Linked DNA regions of Homo sapiens: region 2 is linked to region 1. A link means that fine-mapping ties the variant in region 1 to the expression of a gene that starts in the linked region. Tissue or cell type: whole blood. Region 1 holds a variant in brackets; the other region holds the start of a gene. All regions are shown on one strand. Distances are between the middles of the regions.

The links. PIP is the estimated chance that this variant, and not a neighbour inherited with it, causes the effect.
Region 2: it holds the start of TBX19, and the variant in region 1 is fine-mapped to the expression of TBX19 in whole blood (TOPMed, PIP above 0.99).

The regions. Positions count from the first base shown.
Region 1 is chr1:168,241,221-168,243,982 of GRCh38, reverse strand. SFT2D2 (SFT2 domain containing 2) reads right to left here. Exons shown (of 8, transcript NM_199344.3): 8 at 1-1,482. The coding sequence ends at 1,443. Among named protein-coding and RNA genes, the nearest start is that of SFT2D2, 17 kb to the right of the region's middle. The variant T/C (reference allele first, on the strand shown) is at 1,307.
Region 2 is chr1:168,279,309-168,282,070 of GRCh38, reverse strand. TBX19 (T-box transcription factor 19) reads right to left here and starts at 1,194. Exons shown (of 8, transcript NM_005149.3): 1 at 778-1,194. The coding sequence starts at 980.

The sequences.
Region 1 (2,762 bases):
CTGGAGGGCCAGGAATGCTGGCTGACAAGACAGGGCACTAATCGTAGTCAGGCAACAAGGAGGAGCTGAAAGGGAACACAAGGGACAGTGAACATCCTGCAGATCCAGGAAGAAGCTTCCAAAAGAGATGGGCAGGGAGGGCCAGGGAGGAGATGGCTTGGCTGATGAAAACGAGGGAAACAGTCACAGGCAGTTACAGGAGGCACAACCAGAAACAGGCCAGGAAACTCTGGGGTCATGAAGGAGGCTGAAGCTGTGGCTTTGGGTGGATCCAAAAACCAGTGTGGGCCTTGATTCCCTTGACTGCACAGTGGTATAACAATCCCTGCTTCCTCACAAGGCTCTCCATAAGAACCAGGTAAGATCGTGGACACAAAAGCACTTTGTAGGTTAGGCATCAGGCTGACATGAGACCACCTGCAGTTTATCCCCAGTGTCCCCAGCACAGGCTAAGTGCAAACACTGGGACTATTTAAAGGTCACTGGGCAGGCGTGCCTACTTCCTGCTGGCTGCACAGCAGGGATCTGTCTTCCCACCCCACTCTCCCCTGGCCCAACTCCAGGGGAGAATGGAAAATAAAATCAGTTTAAAAGCAAACATTTATAAATAATGGAGAAAAAAATATAGCTGAGAGCAGCAGGATTTTTCAACTCCTATGGGCTCTCGTCCAAAAAAAAAACAGCAGCATTTTCTGCTGCTGCTCTGTTCTTTCCCCATCTAGTGCCAGGAGGTCATAAAGAAAGATATGCAGGGAGAGGGAGGGAGGGATGGGAAATAAAACCCAAGAGAAAAAGAGTCTGCACCTAATGTCAGAAAATACATTCCACAGTCAGGCGCAGAATCAGAACACCAAGAATGCTTAGATTCAAATTCAGAAACAGCATATACCACCAAAAAGTGCTTCTTTTCTACCTCACTCCATGGCCAGGCTCTCCAGGGGCTTGTCTAAAGCAGAGTCACTTGTTCTCAGATGCCAGAGTAGAAGCAGACTCACTCTATGCAGGACCACGGTGATGGCTTCCATGCTGAGGGACAAGTGGACCCCAAAACTCTGTCCCTTACTGTTGCTCCCGTGATCTCTGATGGGGCTGCCTTTTGCCACCTGGGAATCACTTGCACCCAAGGCTTATGTGCTGTTGCTGAATAGGTTTGTATTCATGGGAATTCAGTGGGACAACATCCAGAGAGGAAACAGGTACATGAGGAAGATTCCACTCCACAAGATACAGAACCCACTTCTCATCCTGTGCTACTGACATTCAGGTTCGAGAATGTATTGTTGCTTCCAAAAGTAACCCTCAAATG[T/C]TCGAATCACAAGCAACACATTGCTGCAAGATAAAAGGCACATGTCTGTAAGACAGAGGTTTCGAAGATAGTTACAAAACTGTCCACCAGCTTCTGTCCATAGTGCCTTCCAAAGCTTCATAAAACTGGCCATGAATTATGCAAGACACACGGCAAAACACTTCTTCACAGCATCCCTAGGAAAGAAAAGACACAAAGATGAGTGGAACGTCATCACCCCAAAGGCACTCCTTTAGAGGGCACCCAGAGTGGAAGCTGCAGAGTAGAAAGCACCTAGACTGAAAGATCAGACCTTCACAGCATCAAACTGCAGCTTCAACATTTATTAGTAGTACTATCCTGGGAAAGTTCCTTGTCCTGTTTGAGTTTCAAATTCCTCATCTGTAAGAGGGGATGTCCCCACTTACCCGACAGTCTGATTATGGGATTAGCCATCATAATCAGAGAAAAAGATAACATAGACTGTCAGAAACTAAGAAATCAGTCAGGATTGCTGCACTTTAATATCGGTCAAAATCACAGAATGCACTGACAGCATTAAATCAAATATTAACTGGGACCTTTCTTCATTCTAAGCAGGCAGCAGAAGGGAGCTCACTATGGGTCCTGAGCACTTATTAATATGCTATAATGGCCTTATCACAGGTATTTACTGCTTGGAATTCAGTGTAGAGGGTGCAAGGAAGAGTTGGTCTTCAAGAAATTACTATTCTACCCAAGCAAGCACTTCCATTTCCACCACCACACCACACTGTGCAATGTGGCACTAGGCTTCTCATACCCCAGCTCTGTTCCACGTTCTCAACTGTGCTGCACTAAGGACATTGGGAGTCACATAAGGGAGGGAGAGGTGAATGGATGCATTTCCATGAGTAGGCACTGCATTTTAATATCAAGATGGTTCCAGGGCAGCATTTCTTGAGATATACTCTGCACTGTAGTCTCAGAAGAGTCTCTGCACAAGAAGGGTTTTATGGCCACATAAGTCCCCCTCATGGCAGCTCACAATACACATAGCATATGGAAGGATCTAGCAAGCCAGGCAAAGAGGAACCTACCTAATTTTGCTTAACCTGTTTCTCAAACTTACTTGATCATAGAACTCTTTTCTTCCACAGAAACACTATTTCTGTGGAACACTGTGGGAAAAGCTATTCCAGGGGAACTTACAAATAGAAGGGTGGGGCCAGGCATGGTGGTTCGGACCTGTAAACCCAGCACTTTGGGAGGCCGAGGTGGGCCAATCACTTGAGGTCAGGAGTTCGAGACCAGCCTGGCCAACACGGTGAAACCCCATCTCTACTAAAAATACAAAAAATGAGCCTGGCATGGTGGCGTGCACATGGAGGCTGAGGCAGGAGAACAGCTTGAAGCCAGGAGGTTGGAGACTGAGGTGAGCTGACATCGGGCCACTGCACTCCAGCCTGGGCCATAGAGTGAGACTCCATCTCAAAAA
Region 2 (2,762 bases), 38 kb before region 1:
AGATTTTGTTTCAAAATATTTGCGTCTCCTCTACGAAGTGAAATCTTCTAATATTACCTGGACAGCCCCTTAGCAGACTAGGTTTAATAGAATCTGAGAAATGCCACCAGAGATCAGTTTCAGTTAATCCCTAAATTTGTTGCACTGATAAGAAAGAAGGCATCTTCTTTTCTCTAAAGCAGAATAATATGTTTTCATCCACTATTACTGCAACAGCTTTCATATCATCACAAACACACACAATCTCAAATGAACACTCACCACAAACACACACGGGGAAGCAGATGAAGTGATAGGCAATGAGTTTACATTTGCCCTTTTGCTTCCAATCTTCAACTAGCCAAACATTTCTGGCAAGTTTGCTATACTTAGGAGGAGATCATCCAGCTTCCAAATAAAGTTGTCTTTCACCTTATCTGGACGGAGTTGGGGCTCAGGTCTGCGATAGGGTATGCAGCTAGTCACAAATTAATATTATTTTCTGACATTTAAGTCCATTTTCCCATCCCAATGGGGCATGCCCCCCACTTTATGGTAATTTCCCCAGAATTTCTCCATTTAAAATGCACATAAGACAGGTGGCTTCATCCTCTGATGATCTCAGATAAATTAATTAAGTTGGCTGGAGGAAAGCCATTGGAGACAGTCGTTCCTGTAAGCATGTTTAATCAGATCCCGCCGCCTCTGAGTGAAGAGCGGCAGCCTCTTCAATATTCAAGGGGTCTCATCTCTCCTGCCAAGCCCTGCCAGCCCACGCGGGGCGGCAGATAAACTCACCTGCCATTCTTGGTCACAATCATCTCATTAGTGACTTCCTTGAATCTCTGCCAGAGAGGTGCATCCTCCAGGATGATCTGAAGTTGCTTCTCCGTAGGGTCGCCTTTTTCCCTCCCTGCCTGAAGCTCACTCTCCACCACATTGAGCAGATGAGAAACAGTGCCATCGCTGGGCTTCCGAGTGCCCAGCTCACTCATGGCCATAGGCACTTCTCGAACTTTGCCGAGAGCCGTTACCCAACTTGCCTGCTTCTAGCTTCTTCCTTCCCTCACTTGCCTGCTTTTCAAACCCACTTGAACAGTGCTTGGGGAGCGGAGAGAAGATACCCTGGCTCTTGCCTAAGCTCCTAGGATGACACCCCTTAAAAGTCTCCACATTATGCCACCAACCTGTTAAGCTTTAGTTGGGGAGCGGGGTGGAGGCAGGGGAGAGGTAGGGAAGAAAAAGCCCTCTCTTAATTACTCATTGGATCAGGTGGGAGAGAGCCTGGCTTTCCCATTGGCTGCCGTGCACAGAGTAGATATTTAAGAAGAGTACTCCATCCAAATTATCAGGCTTTTATCTTGTTGTACCTGAAGAGGTCTAATCGGTGTATTGAGGACCATTTTCCCATTAATTAAAATTATTCCAGGCCCAGACTGCACTGTCAGGCAAATCATGTTTGTGCATAAATCATGACATGTGGCACCTATAAAGAAAAGGGTCCTGGGGAGAATCGACAAACTTGATGCCCAGGCTATAAGCTACTCTCCAGCATCTTAGACGAAGGCTCTGGAGGGAAGAAAGCATGTATGGAAGGTCCAAGGCACTGTGCCAAGAAACATGACTACTGTACCAGAGAATAAAGGAAGACACTCTGTGTGCCACTGCTCAAGGGTCAGGGCTCCGGAGAAAAGAAAAGAGCTCAGAATCTCTTTCTCCCAGGGTGTCCCCTACTGATCATCTCTCTCCTGAATGTCCTATACTCGCTCACACCCCACTTTTCTCAAGGGCCCTCCTCACCTCCTACAAATGGAGCTGTGAATGTTGTCCTTCCTCCCTAGAGTCTAGAACCCCAATTTTTGTTATCTCTAGCCTTTGCCAGAGGAAGACAAAAAAGCAGCTAGTATCATATTAATCTCGCTAAGGAACACTCTGCCCCCAGTCAGTGAAAATAAACTGTTTACATTATTAGGCAGAGCAATTTCAATCTTTGGTCCAGAAAGGCATTCTGGTTTTCTCTTTAGACAATTCATCCTTATTTTGGCATTCCAGGATGAATCCCACATTCCCTGGGAAGAAACACTAGTAGAAAGCTTTTCTTTTGCCCACAACACACAGTACTAATGGCGAGTGAGTGGATGGCGGGTGGAAGAGACAGGAGCAGAGGAAGCTCTACCTCCTCTGGCCCCCAACCTTGAGTAGAGCCTGGGGGTTGTGAGTTTTTCTCTCATTTCAATACAAAGTAAGAAAACAAGAACATAAGGAAAACAAACCCAAAAAGGTAAGATAAAGTCAGGGTAAGGATGACAGAAAATGTATTCAGGATCTCCTATGCTACATACCTATGAAGCATCACATACAGCAAGGAACAAACAGAAATGGCCTGCGCCTTTACAGAATTAACAATATGATGGAGAAAATAAATGATATAAAGTAAACAACAACTAAGTAATTATCAATAGTGATAAGTCTATGAAGGCTACTTAAAAGGGTGAAGTGATCAAGAAAAATTTGTGCACAGCAGGGTAGGGAACTCCAGTTAGATGGAGTTGTATAGAACAGCTTCTTTGAGGAGGAGACATTTCAGATGAGACCAAAAGCTCAGCAAAGATGTAGTCGGGGAAGAGTTGGCAGAGTGCCAAGCAGAAGAATTACATGTGAGAAGCATGGCTTGAGCCAGGTAGAAATCTCCAGGGAGGCCAGTGTGACCAGAATGTGGTGGTAAAGAGAGCAGAATGAGATGTTCTTTGAGAGAGGGCCAGGCCAGACCATGAGGCCTTAGA